Regions from separate parts of the Homo sapiens genome. Here region 1 is linked to region 2. The links come from fine-mapping of genetic effects on gene expression. Tissue or cell type: whole blood. Region 2 holds a variant in brackets; the other region holds the start of a gene. All regions are shown on one strand. Distances are from middle to middle. Region 1 holds the start of DGAT1 (diacylglycerol O-acyltransferase 1). Region 2 overlaps BOP1 (BOP1 ribosomal biogenesis factor).

Region 1 (11,523 bases), 52 kb after region 2:
CCATGCCCATCTCCAAGATGAAAACAGGAGTCGGGAAAGGGTGGTGCTTCCCAAAGCTCACTGCAGACAATCCTACACAAGCTTTCTCAGGGGCCCCTTGACAGGCTTCCAAGGCCTTCCTCAACCCAGCCACAGCCTCACCTCAGGCCCTTCACAGGCCTGACCAGCCCCACCCAGAGGCAGCACCCCCACTGCGCTACCCCTACCCCTCACAGGCCCCCATGAGGAGGAAGCCCCAGTCCACCAGTGCCCACAGAGCTCCAAGCAGTCAGTGCGGCCAGCAGCATGTGGGCTACAGGGCAGGCTGCATGGAACGGCATGGGGAGGTGGGATCTGCCCCTGTGCCTAGAGCACCTTTATCACCCTCTCACTGACTGGAGGATCTGCCCAAGCCTCTGCACCTTCCAGCTGTCCCTACACCCACTCCCTAGTCCAAGAAGACTCGGAGCAGCCTGCCCTCCCTCCTGCAGCCCCCAGGCCCACCCAGCCAGCAGGATCCTCTCAGTCTCACGGCAACACTGAGACCTTGGCACATGCCCACCCGCCACCCTGTCTCCAGGTTCAAAGTGTGCCCAAAGGCACAGGTCCCAGTGAGTCCCACACTTGGGGCCCACACAGTGCAGCTCCAGGGCCAAGCACAATGAGGAGGGGGCAGAGTCCAGCTCTGCTCACTGCCGCCTCCTCCACTCTGGCCTCTGGGCTGGGCCTGGGTTCAAGATGGTTGGGGCAGGCTCCCTGCACCTCGCAGACCCTGCTGGAGAGAGAAAGGGAGAGTCAGAAAGGACACCTCAGGGACAAAACACCCTGGGAGAAGCCAGAAACCGGATGGCCCCGACTGGGGTGCCTGTGAGCAGAGGGCTGGTGGGTGTGTGCAAAGAGCCTGGCAGGAGTGAGCCACAAGCAGAGCAGAAAGGGGTGCCCTCTCCTGCCTGCCTCACAGCCTCACCTTGCCACGGGGCCGGAAGAAAGGAGCTCACACCCAGAGCCCAGCCCTAGGTGAGCAGGAAGTGTCCGTGAGGGGAGGAGGCCCGAGCTCAAGGAGTAATGAGGAAGCGGGAGAGGAAAGGCTGGGCTGGGCCAAGAGCAGCAGGAAGCTGGAGGGAGGGGAGGCTGTGAGGCTGACAAGGGGGTGCGCTAGAGGCCAAGTCCCAGGAGGGCAGGCAGAGCAAGGCCTGACGCAGACAGCAGGGAGAAGAGCCCAGTGTCCACAGCCAGTGGCCGAGCCCTGCTGCATCCCTAGGTCTGAGGGACAAGCACACATAGCCTGCAAGTCCTGGAGACCCAGGAGCAGATAGACTTTTGGTCTCAGCCTCCAGCCCCATGAAGGCCTCACCTCTCCATCTACTGCCCCTCTTCCCAAGGAGACCCGACCTCCACGGCAGGGACAGGGACTCACCAGGCCTCTCCCACGAGCTCTGCACCCATCCCACACCAGCAGAAGTACAGGAAAGCCTTGCTGGTTTGCAAAGCAAGAAGGTGACTGCTCTCCCCTGCCTACCCCCAGGTGGCGGCTTGGCCCAAAGCTGGGACTACCCTCATCTCACACTAAAAAAAATCTCAATTCCCGGCCGGGCGCGGTGGCTCACACCTGTAATCCCAGCACTTTGGGAGGCCAAGGCAGGTGGATCACCTGAGTTCAGGAGTTCGAGACCAGCCTGACCAACATGGAGAAACCCCATCTCTACTAAAAATACAAAATTAGCCGGGTGTGGTGGGCGCCTCTAATCCCAGCTACTCTGGAGGCTGAGGCAGGAGAATCACTTGAACCTGGGAGGCAGAGGTTGCAGTGAGCCAAGAATGTGCCATTTTACTCCAGCCTGGGCAACAAGAGCAAAACTAGTCTCAAAAAAAAAGAAAAGAAAAAAAAAGAAATCTCAATTCCCACGTCCTCCACAGGTCATGTAGCCATCCCCCTGCCTCCTGGAGAGAGGGTAACTCCAGGAGCCACACCTCCTTTTCAGGTAGGAGGTGCCTAGGCCAGCCTCCCTCACCAGCACCCCAGGCCCACAGCAGGCAAGCACCCCTCTCAGGAGGGCCACCCTCCTCCCCACGGCCCCTTCAAGGCCTCCGTGCCCGACCTTTGTCCATGTTGCTCCATGCCTGACTCTCGCTGAGGTTATCTTATCTCCCAGATGAACTGAGCACCCTGAGGGCCACGACAGTGCCTGCCCTCCCCCAACCCCCTCCCCATGGTGCCCCGTGAAGGAAAGCTCTGTTCTTGCTCACTGAGAGAGCAAATCATTGCCAACTACATGTCCAAAATCAGCCCACTTCTGCCTTGATAACCTCTAGGCCCTCAGCTGCTCTCTAAAACAAAGCCCTGAGGGCCCCTGGGCCAGGGTAAAGGCCATAAAGGGGGGATGGAGGGTGGCAAGGGGATTGCTCAAGGCCAGCTTGGTGGAGGAAGCCAATGCCCAGGCTGGCCAAGTCCTTCCCATCGGCCATGGTTCTCTCCCTCCACCCCTCTCTGTCAGTCATCCAGCTGAGCAGGGCACACGCCTGCAGGTGTGTCCACCACCCCCATACCCCACTCCCCACCTGGAGGATGGAAGTCCCAACACAGAACCCAACTCTCTGTCCCTACAACAGACGCTGGCTCTGGCAACATCGGCAGGGCTCCAGGCCAGCCTAACCACTGGAGCAATGAATGGGCCACGCAGCCACTCTCAGAAGGGTCTGCAAGGACAAGAACGCCTCTAACACTGCCCCTTGTCCGGGGCAGCTGCTGATTCCCCTGTCCTCGGACAGGCCTGGGCTCCTCTGGCCCCCTCCCTGGCAGGCCAGCCCTCCTCTGGGAGCCTTTCCTACCCGCAAGGCACCGCTCATAGCACCAAGAAGGAACCTATCACCACAAACTGCCCAGATCTTATCTGACTCCTTCCATATAAGGGGACACTGTCCAGGGCCGGGCCCCCACCAGCCCGCCCCTCGAAAAGCTCCTCAGGAGCCCCTGAGGATGCACAGACCCAAGAGGATCTGGATGCGGGACACCTGCCGGCTCCCCTCTGCCTGGCCAAGGCCAGCTCCAGAGCCCCTACCCAGTGACCTTGTCAGGTGACTCTCCCCAAGCCTCAGTTTCCCCACAGGGCCCATAGGGCACACCGATCCCCGCTTAGCCCAGGGCCCATGTTCTCGGACTCGGAGCTCGCGCTTCGGCCAACCCCGGAAAGTCGCGGGGCCCTTGGGTCAGAGGTTAGGGGGTCAGGCGCTCCGCTACCTCAGCTCCCAGTGGCCGCTGCCCACGCCGGCGTCTCCGTCCTTGTTGGGGGCCGGGGCTGGCGCGTCCCCCGCGGCTCCCACGTCGGGGCCCGCAGCGGCGTCCCGCACCTCCTCTTCCGCCGCCGCAGGCCCGCCGCCGCCGTGGCTCGAGGGCCGCGACCCTGTCCTCCGGCGCCGGGAGCTGCCGCGGTCGCCCATGGCCTCAGCCCGCACCCGGCCGCAGCCAAGCGTGGGCCCGCCGGGTTCGTAGCGCCCGAGGCGCGCGGCCCCACCTCCGGGCCCTAGACAACGGCCGCCACTGCCCCCTGCCGGCCGCCGTAGCCCGGGTGACCGCCTCACCAGCGCGTTCAACCCGCCCGCGTCGGGCCCGTCGGCCTCAAGGACAACGGCTGCGTTGCTCCGGAGCCGCTAACTAATGGACGGCCGCCTCTCTCGTCCATTTGTAGTCCGCGGCCGACCTGAGGCGGGGCCTGGAGAGGCTGACGGGGCGCAGGGCACCCTGGGAGTCGTAGTCGCCGCGGGCGCGCCGGCGCAGAGCACCCTGGGAGTCGTAGTCGCCGCGGCCGCACCGGCGCAGAGCACCCTGGGAGCCGTGGCAGCTCCCAGGGCCGGGGCTGCGGGCCGCAAGTGCGCGCAGCGGGAACGGACCTTGCATCGCTCCCGCGTGGTCCCGGGGTCCTGTCCGGCCCCACGGAGCGGGATGGTCCGCTGAGGGGTGCGCTGGGCCCCGACTTCCTGGCCGCTGTGCGCCCGCCCCTCGTCCCACTTGTGTACACACGGGGTCTCGGCGAGTCACTCCGGGCAATCATTTAGGAAGCGCCTAGTGCGCCACGGTCCAGCTGTCCGGGCCGGTGTCCGCGGCGGCTCGCGTCGCCCGCCACCCAGCGCGTTGGTTTCTGCGCACGCAGCTTACAGTAACGTCCCTGGCGCGCTTCTGCTCCGCGAGCCCTCTGGTTACCCCGGCAGGAACCTGCTTTTCTTCGCCTTAGGGGGACGTCAGACAAGGGCCAGGTCAGAAGACCAAGCTGGAGAAATGCACCAGGCCCTGCGTCACCGGGACGCCTGCCTTGCACGCGACTCCCAGGCTCTCCACCTCCCCGCCTGCAGAGCCCGGCGAGAGGAGGGCGAGGGCGAGGGCGAGGGCGCAGGCCCCTTGGTGGTGTCTTCTCAGCCCACCCACTCTCTCCACAAGGAGCTCCACGTCCCTCAACTCTCAGGGCCTCCCAGTTTCCAACGTGGGCCAGCCTCTCCAGGATGTCAGAAGTCTGGGCCGCTGGATCGCCGGGACTCAAGAGGCTTCTGTGCATTTGCACGGCCTGTGCAACCGCCCTGTTGTTTTTTGTTTTCTTTTTTCTTTTTTTGAGACAGTCTCACTCTGTCGCCAGGCTGGAGTGCAGTAGCGCGATCTCGTCTCACTGCAACCTCCACCTCCTGGGTTCAAGCGATTCTCCTGCCTCAGCCTCCCGAGTAGCCAGGACTACAGGCGCGTGCCACCACGCCCAGCTAATTTTTCTGTTTTTAGTAGAGACGGGCTTTCACCATATTGGCCAGGCTGGTCTCGATCTCCTGACCTCGTGATCCGCCCACCTCGGCCTCCCAAAGTGCTGGGATTATAGGCGCAAGCCACCGCGCCTGGCCTGTTGTTATTTTTTCTAAAGATGGGGGTCTCGCTATTCTGCCCAGGCTGGTCTCGAACTCCTGGCCTCACGCAATCCTCCCACCTCGGCCTCTGAAGGTGCTGGGATTACAGGTATGAGCCACTGCCCCAGACATCTTGTATGTTAAATGAAGCAACTAATCAACTGTAACAGCCACAGTTGCGGCCCACCTTGGCTTGGTGTGCATATTGCACAGGGCATGGAGTGAGAACATCCTGGATCTCAGGATGCCAGGGTTCACTGAGGACTCTGACTCTAGAAACACCTTCATTCCTCTGGGGTGAGCAGGGGCAAGCAGCACTTCTCTGGAAGCAAACAGGTGCTCCTCCTGAGGTGGGGTCCTCTCCCGTGGGCTGGTCACAGCCTCGCCTCTGAGCTCCGTCCTCTTCCACCACCTCCACCAACAGTGGCCAGCAGGGCTGCCCCCTTGGTTGCCCCCCTGGTGACATATTCTTGTCACCACAGGCCGCTGTGGGTTGCTGCCAACCAGGTATCAGGCAGGCTGGAGCTACCTGGCAGATGCCCTTTGTGTAGCCTGCCGAGTGGGGCCGCCCTCACTGGACCCAAGAGCCCCTCACACATGGGCCTTGGTCGGTCAGGACCAGCCCCATCTCCTACCCAGTCTCTCAGAATATTCATTTGTTGAATGCAGTCGCTGGCAGACACACTCTGTGGCCAGGTAGGCCCAGACCTGTCTGAGTATGGACTGACAGCAAGCTCAGAGAGGTCTGGACCTGGCCACGGAGCACCTCATGCTAGGCAGAGGAGATCAACGACTCAACCTGTGGTCGCGTCCCAACTCAAAGCCGGCAAGTGGCCACAGGAGAAAGACAATGGGAGGGTGGACTGGACCACCAGGGAGGATGGGTCGGGCCTGGTGAGCAGAGCCAGGCTTGGAGCCAATGGGGAAAGCACTGGCTGTGGGCGGGCCATTAAGGAAGGGCTTTGCCACCGGGGGTGGGGGCGTGGCGGGGCAGCAGCTCCAGAGGTGGGTGAAGCCCTGCCCAGACAGGCCCTATACCCTGGGATCTAGGGTGAGGGGAATGGTCAGGGTAGGTGAGGTTGGTTGGGGACAAGGGTGTGTATGGCTGGGTCATCGAGGAAAGCATGATGCAGATCACCCTGCTGGGGGCAGCAACAAATGAGGGGGCCCAAGCCCGAAGCGAGTTGCCTTCCAGGGCTAGTGGAATAAAGGGCTGGAAGTGGGTTGGGGCCTCAGGCTGATCCCAGGGCCTAGGGGCCATGGGTGGGCCAAGAAGGCCTGTGAGAAGCAAGGGTCCCAGGAGAGTTCACAGCCAGTGGTGGTCTATGGCCTGTGCTGCTCATTCAGAGGGAAACTTGTGTCTGTGGCTGGGAGGAACTGGGGGGTCGAGCTCATCCCAGGCCTCAGGGAGGCCACCTCCATCCTTCCACCCACTCTACGCATCAGAATCCTGGAGAAGTAGAAACAGCCAGTCGCTGTTGGAGTCCTTTGGAAGGAGTGAGGCTAGGAGCCTTCCTCCTGGCCATTGCTGTCTGCCATTGTCATTGCTGGTAGTGCTCTCCCAAAGAGAGCACCCACCTGCACCACAGCTCCTCCAAGTGCCAGGCACACAGGCCATGACATGCTGCAGACCTGGTTCCCCTGCTCTCCACCCTAGTGGAGTCTGGGCAGGTCTGTCCCCTGTCCCTGCTAGGGTGTGGGCAGCTTTGCTGGCCCTGGATCTAGGACTGACCTGGTTTGAATGTATGTGCCCGAAGACTTTGGGCCTCTCGGCTCATGCCTGCCTACCTGGTTACCAGGGGACATTGCTGGGCAAAGGGTCCCTGTCCCTTATCTCCTCCACTACTCATTCTGTCTAGAGCCCTTGGGCGATGGTTGCAGAAGCCTCTCTGCCCCCTGGGCACCTCCTCCCTGGAACCGGTCCAACCCAGCTATCCATGGAGGCATCCGCAGACACTGGGGGAGCATATCTGGGAAGCCTGGGGGTCAGAATGTGGGCAGCAGGCCACAGGAAAAGGGCCAGACCTCGAACTCTCCACTGTCCCCATTTCCTGCAACAGCATCTCAGAGGGCTTGAGGTGGCTATCAGGCCTTCCATCACAGCATAAAGCTCCTTCAGGGAGAGAAGAGCGAAGGCACCCAGGCTGGGGAACAGCAGCTCCTACTATACCTACCCTGCCCACTCTGGTCCAACCGTGGGCTTGGCCTGACTTTAGACTGGAACCCCTTAGTGCTCCTGTTCCTGGTGTGGAGCAGATCCACCTACCCCAGGGGAAATGCCAACTACTTTGCCTTCAGACCTGATGCTCCTGTGGTTGGGCCTGCCAAGCCTGCCCTCCCCAGTGGAAGAAGAGGGCCGTCTTGTGAAAGGCCTCAGGCTGACCCTTGCAGCACCAGCCTCTGAGGTACTGCCAGACTGGGAAGACCCTCCCAGCCACCCAACAGCGTGGGCCCAGCCCAGGACACATCAGCCCGACACTCCAAATTCTATCAAGAGTGGCATTTATTCTCCTTGTGGAGGTGCGGTGCTCCGGGGAGCTGGTGCTATTGTGCTTAGGAAGGAGGTCTGTCCGTCCGTCCGTCTGTCCGGCCGGCCTGGCCCCAAATGGGGGCGGAAGAGGGGCACGGCCCGAGTAAAAATCCCGGCCTATTCCGGGTGGGAATATGTACAAGGCGGCGGGGCACAGGCGGGGGTGGGGGCGGGCGGGCCGGCGGCCGCAGCCCCCACCCGAGGGCCCCCGCACCTCGGGCCCTACTTGTAGAATCAGTACAAAATAGGTGCTACCTAAACGTTCCTTCTACCTGAATTCGCTAAGTCGGTTATTGTGCTGCTTAGTTATGGGGGCGGGAGGGGGCCCATGGCTTTCCACGGCGGCGGGGTGTAGGGGGAAGCAGGAGACCCTGACGGGCCCACAGCCCTCCAGCTTTCTCCTTAGGTAGGTAGACAGGAGTATGGGGTGGGGTGAGGTGGGGGCGCCTGTGTGTGCGTGTGCATGCGGCACAGGTGGGCAGGCCCCAGCTTGGGAGCTGTGCAGGCACCACACCTGGTTGTGTAGGGTGTTTGGATGTGGGCACTGCTGTGCAGAGCGGTGGGTCATCCTTGTGGGGGCAGCCACGCTTGCTGCTGGGGGTGAGGCTGGCCACACCATAGGCTACAGCTGGCACCTTCTTCTCCAGCCATGGCTCTGCCCCTGGCTGGACATGGCAGATGTGTGTTGGCCAGAGGATCAGAGAAGTGGCCACCTGTGTGGGGGCCCAGGAGCCCTGGATCTGTCCCCCTCAGCTGGAGTCAAAAGGCCTAACTCAAAGGTAGAGCCCAGTTGTGCCCAGCAGGGACTGGTTGAGGTGGGGAGGAGTGTAGGGGGCATGTGAACCTAGGGACCTGGTCTCTCTGCATCTGCCGTTCTTCCCTGGCCCACCCAAGCCGGTTGGACCCCTGTCCTGCAAACACACCTCCCAGCAGGTGGCTGCGCTCCTGGCGGACTCAGCAATTGGCCTGGCACATAGTAGGTGCTCAATGAACGGTCAGTGAATGATTAATGCCTGAAGGAGGGGTCTTGGGGGCAACCACCCCACCCCCGCCCATGGAACCATTACAGCCGCCGGGCTCTGCCGTGGGGGTCGGGGAGGGGTGGGGAGAAAGTCTGCGCGGCCGGCCCCGCGCAGCGTCCCTGATCTAGGGGCCTATGGGGTGGGTAGGGCGAGGGGATACCTGATTCTCAGTAACTCTAGAGGCGGCGGCAGCTTCGCATGCAGTGCGCATTATTGCTCTATAGTCGGCTTCGGACTACCTAAGAGGGAGGGGGAGCGGGCAGCCCCGGGTAGGATCGGGAGGAGGGGTGGGGCTGCATGCAGTGACGTCACAAAGGCGGCGGCCAATGGGGCGGGCCCTTGGGGCGGGGTCGCCGCCGAGGCTTTGGCATAGACGGGCGAAAGTTGGCAACCGAGTGGGGGCGGGGCCTGGGTCTCAGGGGCGGGGCCTGGGTCTCAGGGGAGGGGCCTGCCTCGGAGAGGCGGGGCCTGAGGCTCCCTAGAGGCTCCCAGCTAGGGGCGGGCCTCGGGGCGTGGAAAGTAATCCCGGACATCCCAGGCCCCCGGCGTCGGCGGGCAAGATGGGGGTTCAGCGCCCCCTCCCTGACCCGAGTGCAATCCGTTCATAAATAAAACGTACAAATACAGAAAAAGAAACCCGACGCGTCCGCAACCCCCCCAGGGGGCTTTACCCGCAAAGCGAAGACAGAGGTGTGTAGAGGGCAGCGCCCAGGCCTGCCTGCCGGCCCCGGGAATCCGTCCTCCAACACGAATGCCTGGGGTACGGGGGTGGGGGGTGGGGGCCCGGGGCAGGGCGGAAGCGGGGTCTGAGGAGGTCGGATAAGTCCATGCGATTCGATATGTGTCATTATTATTCGATATGGAGGACAGAGCCCGGGAAGCTGGGCTGGAAGAATTCGGATTTGGCAGAGGATGCGAGGCGAGGGTAGGAGGGCGGCTCCGACTGAGGCCCCAGAAGCAACCCGAGGGAGGGGGTGCCGCCGTCCGCCCCTCTCCCCGACCCACAACGCGTCTAACACTGCCGGGAGTTCCGCGAAGGCTGCTAGGCAGGGGCGTCCCTGCAGGCCCGCCCGCTCCTGCTCCGCCCCGGCCTGCTGCCGGGGAGGGGCCGGCTCCCTGGACGTCTGGGCCGCAGGCCCTGCGCTAGAAGGCTTGGGAAGGGGTGGGGAAGACCTGAGTCCCTGCGACGCGATCCAGGGGCGCAGAGGCGGGAGAAGGAGGGCGCTCCCTACCTCACCTCACCCCCGTCTTCAGAGACCCAACTCGGAGATGAGGTTCGGTTCTAGGTCTCGTCGACCCTATTGCTGGGAGAAAGCCGGGGGCACCCTGGAGGGGAGGGGAGGGGGCTCGGGGTGGGTCTCCCCTCGGGACCCTATTGCTTGAAGGGGCCGGCAAGGCCCCTGGCGGGCGGGGCGGGGTGGGACCGGGCCCCCCTCCCCCTATTGCTGTGAGGAGGGGCCCGCCCTCCGGCCCCTCCACCCGGACGCCAGCGAAGACTTCCCTGGGGGGCCGTATTGCTGAGAGCCGACCTGGCTGGGGGAGGCCCCGCCGCCCTAGGCCTGCACAGGGCTGAGCTGTGGCGGCGCAGGAGCCGCGGGGCCTCCGGCGCCGCCCTTGAAGCAGGCCGACTCGTAGTGCTTGTTGAGATAGGACTTGAGCGCGAAGCTCTTCTTGCAGCGCTTGCACTGGAAGTGCTTGAAGGCCGAATGCGTCTGCATGTGCGCGCGCAGGTTGGAGCGGTCGGCGAAGGCCTTGCCGCAGTGCGCGCAGCCGAAGGGTTTCTCGCCGGTGTGCGAGCGCATGTGGCCCTGCAGCAGCCAGGGCCGCGAGAAGGCTTTGCCGCACACGCCGCACTTGTGGCGCAGGTCGTGCGTGAGCAGGTGCATGGCCATGGCCGGCATGGACACGTACACCTTGCCGCACGTCGGGCAGCGCCGCGCCAGCTGGCTGTCCAGGCTGCGGTGCGTCTGCTTGTGGCGGCTCAGGTTCGACGACGTGGCGTATGTTTTGCCGCACTCGCCGCACGCGTGCCGGCCGCCAGCACCTGCGGCCCCTGGCCCCGCGCGCGCCTCGGTGCCTGCCCCCGCGCGCGTGCCGCCCCGGCCCCCCGGCCCGGATCCCAAGCTGCGCCCGCCCGCCCCGCCCCCGCCTCCGGCGTCGCCGTCGGGGGCCGCCGCCGAGGCTGTGGAGGGAGCGGCGGCAGCGCCGGCATTGGAAGCCTTACGCCGCGAGCGCCCGTCGGTGATGAAGAAGGCGTCCGCCGCGTAGCCCTCGCTGACGGCCGCGTCGCCGTTGATGTAGCCGCCCGCAGCGGTGGCCAGCTCCGGGCGCGGGGTGGGCGGCGGCGCAGACCCTGCAGCCGCCGGACCCAGCTCTCCACGCACAGCTGCTGCGTACATGGGCTCCGGCGACGGCCCTTTGAGCAGCGCAGCCTCGGCGTCGCCATCGTAGACGGACGAGGGCCCCACGTAGTCGCTGAGGTACCCTGCGGGCGGAGGCGGACGGACAGCGGGAAGGGAATGGGGCGGCGGCAGGACACACACGGGGGATGGGGGGGCGGGAGACAGCAGACGCGGACCGGGAGACCCGGGTCCGGGAGAGAGGCGAACAGGGAGGAGGACAAAGGAGAGGAGGCCGAGGGACCGCCGGGCAGGGAGGATGGAGACAGCAGGGAGGGGAAGAGAGGGGAGGAGAGGATGAGACAGGGCCGGGCCACGCTCCGCCCCCGCCGCCCCACCCTCGCAGAGAGGAGGAGAGAGGCGCGTCTTCGGGCGCGGCTGCCCCCCTTCCGCGGAGCCTCAAGGTCAGGGGGGAGGGGCGGCGCTTCCCTCTCCCTCCTCCCCCACCCACCCTCCCCTCCCCCTCGGGTTCTCCCCACTTCAGCAGTTTTCCCTGATTATGCAACACACTGCAGACCCGCGGCGCACAAAGCCAGGACTGCCGGCCCAGGGACCCCGTCTGTCCCACCTCTCCGGGGTCCTGGCCGGCTCTCCCTCTGGCCTGCAGAACGTGCGCTCCATTTTGATGTTGACCCCCTCTGGCCTTCTGGTTCCTCCAACAAGCCCTGAAGACGTCTCCCTCCCCCAGTTCCCTCCGGCCTCACCAGCACCT
Region 2 (11,523 bases):
AGACGAGTGGCAGGTGCTCCCTGCCCACCACAGCCCCTGGCTCCCTTCCCAGAGTGCTGGCCTCACCTCCACAGAGACCCAGGGCTCCCTCCGCCTGTGCCCCACAGAGGCAGCTGGGACGGAAGGGGCCCCAGCCTGCACCCTGGGCCAGCAGCCGCCCCTGCGAGCCGAGCTGGGCTGGAAACGCTCTGCTGGGCCTCAGCTGTCAGCTCCTGTCCCCGGCCTGGGGAACGAGCTGCTGGCGGGACACATGATTCATCACGGTCGCCTGCGCCCACCACCCGCCCCGCCCAGCGCAGCACCTGCGGGCTGCCAGGAAACACATGTGACCCCTCCGGGTCAGGCCCCGCACGGAGAGCCCCGGCCGGCCGGCCGGGGGCACACACAGACCCAGCATCAGGGCTCTCCTGGGGGCCGCCCAGCCCCAAGGACAGGCCCCCAGCCCAGACTGCACCGGACACAGGCCGCAACCGGCTGATGTGTCGGCTGGGATTTTTCCGCTCTCGATGAGCCCCCTTCCCTCCCCCTCCCCAAAGTGGCTGCAGCTGTCAGGACCACAGATTGGAACTGCAGGTATGGGGCTGGCCCGCTGCCCGCCTCCTCCCGTGTCTGTCTGCGAGAGAGGAAGCCGGCCCACCTCTGGAATCCTTCACTCTCTCCTCGTTCCGCCTCTCCCACCTGTCCCCCGGGAGCGTGGGGTCAGCCGCCCTCGCTCCGTCTCTCTCTTCCCCAGCCCCTCTCCGATTACAATGCGGGTAGTGTTCAGCGTTCGCGCCGCTCCCCTGCACAAAACGCCCGCCTGTCTCGGAGCGCCACACGGCCTTCCTGTGCGACGTGAGGCCGCCTCCTCTTCCTCAGGGTTTTATCTGTTGAAGTGCTCAGGGCAAGGCCAGGGCGGGAGGCTCACCTGCTGCATCTCACCCTACTGAAGGTTCCAGCAGGGGTGCTGGGCCCTGGCGCCGGGGCCAGAGGGGAGAAAGCCAGGTCCTGCTTAGTCTCCTCCTCCTCAAAGTCCAAACCAGCTGAGCGAACCCCCAGCCCAAGGTGGGGCCCCAGGCAGGAGGAGCCACCAGCCCAGACGCCCTCAGCTCCGGCCCGGCTCCCGCCAACCACGCATCTGCCCTTCTAGAGGCTGGGCACACAGCTCGGCCTTCTCCCGGCACCTCCACCACTGGAGAGAAGCCACTACTGACCCAGGGGTCCTTGCACCTCCACAGCTGGGAGGGCAGCAAGTCACCTCCTGGGGGTCTGCAGGCTGGAGAGAAGCCACTACCGACCCAGGGGTTCCTCCAGACCTGGCCTGCCTCGGTCTCTGCTGGGGCTGACCCAGGGACAATAGCTGTTCCCAGGCAGAGCACCCCAACGCCTGGCATCTCATAAGCAGGGGCTCCCAGAAACCAGGATGCTAGGGGTGGGGCACAGGCTTGGGGCATGACACCCCAAACACCCCCCACCGACACCCACCAGTGCTCACCCCTCCTCGGCCTGCTCTGAGCCCCACAACTCAGAGCTACAACTTCCAGGTGGGGTGGGGACAGGGCTCTAGAGGTCCACACCCGCTCAGCCCCCAACTCCGGACACCTCCAAAATCTCATTCTGGAGACTTTTCCCCCAGTCCTGATCCGTGCACACACACGTACCTGGGACTCCCGTCCCCTGCAGAACAGCCCCGGCCTTGGGACGTACACCCAGACCCAGCTCTCCCCAGCCGGCCTCCCCAGAGGGCCCAGAGCCTGCAGCCGTCACCACCTGCCCAACAGACCTTGCCCTCCAATGCCTTCCCCGGCTCCACTCCACAGGCTGCTCTGCCAGCCCCAGGGCAAAGCCTCCGCTCAAGAGCCCTGTAGAGCACCCCCCGCTGCCCACCCGGGTTCCAGCTGCCAAGGACACTGGCCCCGAGTGGGCACAGCAGGCCAGGGCCCCCACCACCCTTGCAGCCCACAAGCAGGAGGACGCGGCTCTGAAGAGGCCACTCCCACCTACCAGCCACTGCCCAGCCCTGCTTCATCCGAGAGCCCAGGGTACCCCCATGAGGGCCCTGGCTTCCCTGCCCCTCATCACTGACCCCAGGGTCTCTCCTCTCCCAAACCGGACAACTGAGTGCAGCAGGCCAGGCCTAGGAGGGCCTTCAAGCCGGCCAAGGGGCACGCGGCAGTCAGGCTACACACACCCACCCACAGCCTGGGTAGCAGGGCGCGCCCGTTTCCCTCCTCAGTGGAAAGGGACCAGACCCGAGGGCCAGCCCCAGCCCAGTCAGCAGCCCCCTCGGAGGCAGGCATGCAGGCGGCCGCGGGGGTGGATGGCCGCCAGGGAGATTGGGGCGGTCTGCAGGCCCGGGCGCCCTCCACAAGCAGCGTGGGGAGGGCCGTTCGCTCGCCGGGAAACCTGAGCCGAGGCCGCGCCGCCAGCAGCGACGCAAGCCTGAGTGCGCGGGGCCAGGACGCGGGGGCGGGGGCGGCCCGGAGGAGCGGAGGCCGCCAGCACTGGAGGCAGCTGCCGGTTCAGTAGCTGGGAGAAGCCATTAACGGCGCTTGGCGCGAGAGCAGAGGGGACCACGGGCTCTGGACGCAGACAGGCCCGGCTGCATCCCTGCGGGAACCTGACTCACAGCCCAGGCAGGGTCAGGGGCACCGAGGAGCTGCCAGGCTGCACCCCAGCCCCAGACTCCAGACTCCAGTGGAGGCCTCGTGGGGGACGGCCCCAGGCCAGCACCACGGGGCACAGGAAAGGGACAGCAGAGGGCGGCTCCTCCGGCCAGAGTGGACGGCCACCCAGATCCCTCAGCCTGCTACGCTTTCCTGACAAACACGGCCACAGGCAGGGGGAGGGTGGGTGGCTGCATCCTCTGCCTGAGCAGCCACCCGGCCTCAGTTTCTCCCAACCGCTCAAATCAAAGCGGAGGGGCTGCTTCGGCAAAGGCCGAGAGCCCCCTTGCCCCGCCCCTCCACCCCGGCCCACCTCCCCGGGGGTCCCAGCGGCTGGATGAGATCACGTCTGTGAAGCTCCAGGCGCGGTGGGAGAGGGGTGAGGTGGCCATGCGGGGGCGGGGCAGCCGCAGCTCAGCCGGCTCCTGGGGGCCCCCCACTGCCGGCGGCAGGACCCCAGCCAGGCCCAGCGCCTCCTCCAGGGGCTCCGCCCGCCTCCCTCCGCCTGCTCGCTGCTGCCTGCGCACCTGGGGGAGGGGAATAAGACACCAAGAGCTGGAGTACAGCTCTCCTGTGAGGGGCTGCTCAGGTCTTCAAAAGTCAGCGTCCAGCAGGGGGTCCCTGAAGCCCCAGTGTCATCCAGGTCCAGGCCCTGGATCCAGACCCAGGAAGGGCAGGGAAGTGGCCTGAGGAGAAGGGGAGGTAGGTGGGCAGGGGGTGGCAGGGAGGCACCTCCCACCAGCAGGAGCTTGGCCCGAGACCTTCTCAGCATCACAGCCACTGCCACCCACGCGCTCCAGCTGAGATCGCCGCTCGCAGGAGCACACGCCCCAGCGGCGCCCTCCCTGCCCTGCTACCAGGGGCCCTCTCCACAGCCCTGAAGGGCCCCGGCAGTGAGGTCGGCCCTCTCTCAGCCAGCTCTGCCCAGTGCCGAGGAGGACCATGGTCCTGGTGCCACGGCCACCTCCAAGGACACGGGGCTGCCTGACGGGCCCTGCTCTCCTCACCCCACTGTCTCATGGGAGAGCTGCAGGCTGTCTCCCACCTCCCAAGCCTCTTTCCTGCCCACCTGTGGCCCCAAATCACTCCCCTAGGGCCACCCCACTTTGCTCCAAGGGAACAGAGGCCCAGGCAGATGCGCACTTCTCTGGACGGGAGGCATCTGTCCGGGCCTGGCCTGGCTCCTGAAAGCTGAGCTCTGCCGCCCCCTCGAGCCACTGGCCGGCTGTGCTGGCAGGAGCACCGGGCAGCACCCGGGCTCCCTCGCTGTCACTCAGACCAACATATGGGATAGTCATCACTGGAGGAAGCAGCCCCCACATCCCTGGCCGGCTTCCTCCCAGCACAGCAGGGGGCTGCCCACCCGGCAGGCGGCGGTGGCACTGGACAGGCCTGGCAAAGCACCCCCAGGGGCAGCAGGGTCCCACAGGCCCCGCCGAGGCCCCTCCCCCGGCCTCCGCGCTCCGTTTACAATCATCATCGATTTCTCAAAATACCAAATATAAAAAAGTAGCCGACAGGATGTGGCTGCCGACAGCCAGAGCCCCTGGGAGGGGGAGGGGAGACAGGCAGGGAGTGCGCGGCGTGGCCCCCCCGCTCTGAGTGAGCCCGCTGCTCCGGCCAGGAAACCAATTTATTTTGTTTTGTCTCTGTTCTCTGAACGCGCAGCAGAGACCGGATCGGGCGGGCGGCCAAGGCTCCTGCAGCCACAGCCAAGAGAGCCGAAGGATGGGGGAAGAACCTGGGGGGAGGGGGGCGCGTGTCTCCCCCAGGCCCCCCGGGGACAGTTCCTGACAGGCAGGCAGGAAGAGCTCCTTCAGGAAGGCCCTACACCAAAGCCTTCTCCTTCCCCCACAGCCCCCAGGGCCCAAAGGAGACTCTGCCTCACACCCAGGTGCTCCACTGGGACCACAGTCCTACCCTGGGGCCAGGCCACACTGAGGAGGGTATAGGCAGGCACTGCCTCTGGCTTCAGAGCTTCTCAGAGCTTCCAGCCCCTCCCAAATGAGGGCAGCCCCCCGCAGCCAAATCTGCTCTTGGACACAGCCCAGTGCCAGCCTCTCCACGCCGGCGGAACCCAGCCCGGTGCCAGCCTCTCCACGCTGGCGGAGCCCAGCCCGGTGCCAGCCTCTCCACGCTGGCGGAGCCCAGCCCGGTGCCAGCCTCTCCACGCTGGTGGAGCCCAGCCCAGCAGCACGCATCCCCCTTCGCCTGCAAGCTCCTTATGAGAAACAGCCGACCTCCTGCCCCTCCTGAGATGTGCTCCTGGGACTCAGTCAGAGGTCCAGAGGCAACGGCCCCAGCCCACATCAGCCACCACCAGGGGTGGGGGGCAGGGGGACCCCAGGGGAAGGGAAGGGCCACCACTGCCCAGAACATCAGGACATTAGGAGGTGGCCCTGGCCCTGTTCTGCCCGCCTGGCCCCCAGCCAACCTGTGGCCCACCCCACAGCACACACGACAGGGGCACCACCCATGCCCGTGACCCCCACCCCGACCATGACCCCCACCCAGACCATGCACGCCACGCCCAGGGAGCCCACAGCCACCCTGCAGACGCCACAGGAGCCCCCAGAGCCCGTCCACAGGCCAGACACAGGGGCATGGAGCCACACCCAGGTCCTTCCCCTTCACAAGCCATGATGACACACATACATTGCAGTCTTGTGTCCCAGACCCCGAAATTGCTCTTGCAGATGGGGAAGCAGGACGCCCACGTGGGCCTCGGCTCCAACAGTGCGGCCCACCTGCGGCAGGTCCCAGCACCCCCAGGGCAACCCCAGCCCCAACCCCCAGCACCTGCTAGGCTGTGATGGAAGCCGCCCCACCCTGCCCAGTGGGAAGCAGCCCCAGTCCTACCTCCTCATCAGAGCTGTCCTCCGCATACTCATCCCCAATCCGGGCGCTCGCCATCTCTGTCCTCGGGCAAGGAGTGCTGGCCTGCAGAGAGAGAGAGAAAATGGTCACTTCAGGGGATACAGGGTACCCTTTGACCTTGGGGGGATCCCAGGAAGCCCACCACCCCGAAATCTCTGAGCAGCTCCAGCCTGGCACAGGCCTCAGCACAAGGCCGAGAACACCCAGCTCTAAGGGGGCCTCTGGGGGCTGTGGCTGGCACCCGGCGCCGCAGGTCCTGCCCACGGCCCTGTCCTCTGTGAGGGCTGGACTGCAGCCTCCCGGGGCCTCTGTCCCTGGGCTGACACGGGTGTCAGGCTAGACACGGAAGCCACTGGGGCAGTCAGGAGCAAAGCCGCCAGCTGAGGACCAAGACCCACCGCCAACCACCCGTACCCCCATTCATGTCAAAGCCACAGGACTCCTCCCAGGGGCCCCACATGGCGCTCCTGCCGAGCCCCGCCTGGGACGGGGGCAGCATGGTCGGGGGGAAGAAGGAGACGCAGCCGTCGCAGCAGGGTCACTGGGGCCAATGCTCTTGAAGGGGCGGGGGACACACATTGTCCACCCATCCCGGGGGCCACGTCCCGCCCAGTCCAGCCAGCAGAGGGCCCAGAGAGGGCCCCGAACACTCAGAAGGCCTGCCCAGCGTTCTCCCACCCACCACGTCCACAGCCCAGGCTGACCCCATCCCGCCGGGTCACAGAGTGGGCGCCACTGAGAATTCACATCCCAACCTGGAAAACAGATTCTGCCCTCGACTGCGGAGGTGAGGATGGCTCCAACCGGATCGGGTTTACTGGCGGAACCAAGGCTGATGGGGAAAACAGGCCCACCTCTCACCCGTGGGGGCAGTAAAGTGCTCGGGCGCAGGAACCCCAGAGCGAAGGCGGGCACGCCCCCGCCCCCACCCCGAGCCCCTCTTCTCTCCGGCCCGGGCTCCTCCCCTGCCTGTTTTTTCCTTCAATATAAAGAGAGATGGGAGACTAAGTTTTTTCCCAGGCCAGGAACAAGGAAGGATTCAGTTTCCACGTCTCCCCCTGCTGCTGACAGTGGCCTGGGGCGCTCAGTGACACGGAGCTCTTGCCCCTGCCTGGAGCACATGAGCCCCCACAGCCGCAGCAGATCCGTGACCCCGGCCCCAAGCCCCAGACGCGCACAAGGGCAGTTCCACACCCGGCTGCGGTCGGCTGCCCCCGCCTGGCCTCTGCGGACGGGTACCGGGCTGGGCTCCCGACCCCTCACAGTGGCCGGGGCTGAAGCACCGCACGCTGGAGTCCCAGCCTCGCTGCTCATGGGCCGCAGTCCCAGGGTCCTGGCAGGTGACAAAAGACTTGTCACCCAGCGCTCTGTGCCCCGTGGCCCCTGTGCTGGATGTGGACAGGCCACGGCACAGGCAGGCTCTGGGCAGGGGGCAGAGGTGGCCTTCGAAGGTGCTGGGTTCCCAGGGGCGCAGCATCCCCGTGGGACAGCTGTGGGGCACAGAGTCCACCAGGGGGCGACGGCGCTCAGCCAGGCCCAGCGCCCGAAGGGCAGGGGCGGTGCGGGCAGGGGCGGTGCGGGCAGGGGCGGCCACTGCTGGGAACTGCCTGACCTAGAAGGCCCCTTCAGATTTTGGAGGCAGATGCTGTGGGGCATTGAACGTATTTTTTTTAACTTAAAAATTAGAGGAAAAGGCCACCAAAACCCTAACGACACAGACAACGGAACATGAGCCCACGCCACGCTCCGGACTCCTGGGGACAGGACCCCCTCCCGCCAC[G/A]CCCATGCCTGGAGTCAGCCCGGATTCTCCAGGGTCTCCAGCACCACCCGCAGTGTGCGTGGCCTGACTGAGGAGGGGTCGGGCCCGATGGAGCACGAGAGTTGCGTGAGGGTGAAGTAAAAGCTGAGAGAGTGGGCGGGCGAGCGCCACTGGGCAGAGGCAGGCGGGTCTGAAGGACCGACGGGTGGGCAGGGAGCCGCCGAGGGGGAGCGCAAGGACGAGGTGCCAGCAGGATGCGGGGCCGCTGGGGCCAAGGAAAGGCTGCTGTAGTCCCTGAACCCTGCGTGGCCTCTGCCCAGCCCCAGGGCTAGAATGTCACCATGAGGACCAAAGGGAGAAACCCACAGTGGGCTCAGCCAGACAGAAACGGTGTCCAAGCGCATGAGCCCCCTATTGTGACCACACCAGAGCCTCCCCTCCCCAGCATCAGGCCAGCCAGGCCGTGCCCCACTGCCACCAACCAGGCATGAGACACGGGCTCTGCCCTCACCTCCTGGGAGAGGATGGCGACAGAGCTGCGGTGTCCCGGTTCGGTGGGAAGAGAACTCTGCTCCCAGGGCTGCCCACAAGAGGGTTCTGCTGGAGACGTGGACAGCAGGAGGGAAGCAGTCCTAACTTGCCCAGAGACCAGAGCCAGAACATCGCTGTCGGGGTGCCAAGGACACCAAGACAACCCAGCGCTGCACCACAGACCCCACACCCAGCACCTCAGCACGGCCAAGGCTCCCTAGGGCCCTGCCCACGCTAGCCGCAGGGTGCCCAGCACAGAGACAGGCTGCTATCCAAGAGCTCTGTGCCGATGGCTCGTGTGACAGCAACGACTCATCAACAGGTACCTAGGAAACCCACATTTTGTTTTAAAGAAAGTACATCAGCAGGAACTGAAAAGCCCAGAGAAAATACAGCCGAAAAACATCCCTTTTTACTCAGGGAAAAGGAAGGTAACTCGGGGCAGGAGCCCAAGAGTGGCAGGGTCGTTCCCAGGCATGGAGGCCAACCCTGCATGAGGCACTGGCCATGTGTGCTGCCACCAGAGGCCCCAAGACCACCACGGGCCATGACCACCAAGGGCCATGACCGTCACGGGCCACGACCGCCATGGGCCATGACCCCCATGGGCCTCAAGACCACCACAGGCCACGACCACCACGGGTCTCAAGACCATCATGGGTCTCAAGGACAGGCCCCAAGACCACTGCGTGCCACGACCGCCACAGGCCCTAAGACCACCATGGGCCCCACGATCACCACAGGCCACAACTGCCACAGGTCCCCTATACCACCATGGGCCCTGACGATCACAGGCCACAACCACCATGGGCCACGACCACCACAGGCCCCAAGACCACCACGGGCCAAGACCACCATGGCCAAGACCACCACCAGCCATGTGCTCAGCCACCTTAGGACCACCACAGACCAGAGACCACTCCACAGCACTGTGACTCGGTGCCCCACTGCAGACAGCTGTGCAGAGAGGGGCCCAAGGACCCCCATCTATCAGGCCTGGTTTAGATGAGACCCTGGCAGTGGAATGAGGTTCTGGGGAGCGCTGGGGGAAGAGACTATTTGGCAAGCGTAAGGGTGACTGTGACCATTTTAAAACACGGCCACAAACCTTTGATTTTCATCGCATCAAGAGACAGAGTCTATGTCCCCCCCGCCGCAAATCTGGGTGGGCTTGTGGCTGCTTTACCCACCCAAGGGAGGCAGCCCACACTGACACCACAGGATTCTGGGCTGAGGTCGTGAAGGCCGTGTGGCTCTGCCTGGCACAGGAGACCACGTCCTTGCAGCCCTGAGCCCTGGGAGAGGGGACAGCTGGACAGGGGTACCCTTCGTGAACATGGCTGTCAGGGGCGGTCTGGACACACAAGAGGCCCGGCTGTGCTCACCTGAGATCCTCACCCAAGTCCCAGAGCACAGGATGTGAGCTGAGTGTCGATCTTCCTCAGGTGGAATGTACCAGAACCCTCTGGGGCTCCCCGGCCCCTCAGCATGACACTGTACTCAGGGTGTACTGACCCTGCTGCTTTCGGCCTGAACTCTGACCCCTCGAATCCAGAATGCTACAAAATATCTGTTTGATGCTGCAAAGTGTCAGGGCAGGTGGCAGAACAGCTGCCTGACTCCCCCATGGGGGCCAAGAAGCTTGGAGCTGGCAGTCTTCAAAAGAACCCAAAGCAAGGCCACAGGCAGAGGCAAGAGCGGAGTTTACCACCAGCCCTGGCCCCTGGTTCCATCCCCAGCTCTGTGGTCCACACCCAGGCAACTTCTCCACCACTGACCAGCTGGTGAGAATCACTGGGCAGCCCCTTTCCAGACTCCACAGAGCTGCAGCTCCAGACCACTCTCCAGCAGACGGCACCAGCACCCAGACCCCAGAACCACAGCGACAGGGGGCCCGAGCCCAGGGTTCCCACGCTGCAGCAACGCGGCCTGCCACCTGCCATTCCCAGAGCCTTCGCTGAGACGCTGGCGGGATCCCCTGCCCAAGAGTGTGCATTATGCTCCGGCACAGGCCAAACTCTCCTTAAATTATCTGGGAAGGCCGGGCCCAGTGGCTCACACCTGTCATCCCAGCACTTTGGGAGACCGAGGCAGGCGGATCAGTTGAGGTTAAGAGTTCGAGACCAGACTGGCCTACATGGAAAACCCTGTCTCTACTAAAAATACAAAAAATTAGCTGGGCTTGGTGGCGCTCACCTGTAATCACAGCGGGAGGCTGAGGCAGGAGAAAGAACTGCTTGAATCTGGGGGGTGGAGACTGCAGTGAGCTGAGATCAGGCTATTGCACTCCAGCCCGGGTGACAGACAGACTCTTGTCTCAGAAAAAAAAAAAAATCTGGAATCATCACTTTAATACCAGGTCTTCGGCCTTCTCTCACTTTCATACCAGGTCTTAGGCCTTCTCTCAGTTTAATACCAGGTCTTTGGCCTTCTCTCACTTTAATACCAGGTCTTCGGCCTTCTCTCACTTTCATACCAGGTCTTCGGCCTTCTCTCACTTTAATACCAGGTCTTAGGCCTTCTCTCACTTTCATACCAGGTCTTCGGCCTTCTCTCACTTTAATACCAGGTCTTCGGCCTTCTCTCAGTTTAATACCAGGTCTTAGGCCTTCTCTCAGTTTAATACCAGGTCTTCGGCCTTCCCTCACTTTCATACCAGGTCTTTGGCCTTCTCTCAGTTTAATACCAGGTCTTCGGCCTTCCCTCAGTTTAATACCAGGTCTTCGGCCTTCCCTCAGTTTAATACCAGGTCTTCGGCCTTCCCTCACTTTCATACCAGGTCTTTGGCCTTCTCTCAGTTTAATACCAGGTCTTCGGCCTTCCCTCAGTTTAATACCAGGTCTTCGGCCTTCCCTCAGTTTAATACCAGGTCTTCGGCCTTCTCTCACTTTCATACCAGGTCTTTGGCCTTCTCTCAGTTTAATACCAGGTCTTCGGCCTTCTCTCACTTTCATACCAGGTCTTTGGCCTTCCCTCAGTTTAATACCAGGTCTTCGGCCTTCCCTCAGTTTAATACCAGGTCTTCGGCCTTCCCTCACTTTCATACCAGGTCTTTGGCCTTCTCTCACTTTAATACCAGGTCTTAGGCCTTCTCTTACTTTAATACTAGGTCTTAGGCCTTCTCTTACTAGTGCTTTTTTCTTTCAAGACAGAGTCCCACTCACTCTGTCACCCAGGATGGAGGCAGTGGCATGATCTCAGCTTACTCTAACTTCCGCCTCCCAGGCTCAAGCAATTCACATGAGGTTTCACCATGTTGGCCGGGCTGGTCTCGAACTCCTCAAGTGATCCGCCCACCTTGGCCTCCCAAAGTGCTGGGATTACAGGTTTGGCTCACCGCATCCAGTCTTTTCTCACATTCTTGACTGTGACAAGCAGATTAACTGATAAAAACAGAAACTTCTGCACAAAATAATAAAAAGAAAAACTCACATAAATGAAAAGACAAAACCAAGCAAAGCTGGGAAAAAAATGAATCTAAATGAGCACAGAAAGGAAAAAACAGCTCTGAGCGCACGGACCCCACAGATCCACTAGACACCAGCGATAAAGAGAAGGCCCTGCAACCAGTCCTCGCTCCGGTGAGCCCGCGGCCCGCGCTGCCGTGTGCTGCTGGAGAGGGGACAGGAAGCGAGGCACAGGCCGGCAGGAGGCAGCTTCCTCCCTGGCTGGTCAGTGGAGGGCTGGGAGCACCCGTGTCAGGGGTGCTGC

What was found.
Region 1: it holds the start of DGAT1, and the variant in region 2 is fine-mapped to the expression of DGAT1 in whole blood (TOPMed, PIP above 0.99).

Annotation. Positions count from the first base shown.
Region 1 is chr8:144,323,220-144,334,742 of GRCh38, forward strand. It overlaps DGAT1 (diacylglycerol O-acyltransferase 1), which reads right to left and starts at 3,633. Exons shown (of 17, transcript NM_012079.6): 1 at 3,218-3,633. The coding sequence starts at 3,417. It overlaps SCRT1 (scratch family transcriptional repressor 1), which reads right to left. Exons shown (of 2, transcript NM_031309.6): 2 at 7,346-10,897. The coding sequence ends at 9,966. RefSeq lists enhancers at 709-768, 8,649-9,357, 9,094-9,143, 9,358-10,066, 10,067-10,774 and silencers at 3,260-3,329, 3,340-4,059, 8,644-8,933.
Region 2 is chr8:144,270,720-144,282,242 of GRCh38, forward strand. BOP1 (BOP1 ribosomal biogenesis factor) reads right to left here. Exons shown (of 16, transcript NM_015201.5): 3 at 5,505-5,585. Among named protein-coding and RNA genes, the nearest start is that of SCX, 10 kb to the left of the region's middle. RefSeq lists silencers at 218-387, 4,026-4,155, 7,089-7,138 and enhancers at 282-925, 926-1,569, 4,148-4,790. The variant G/A (reference allele first, on the strand shown) is at 7,303.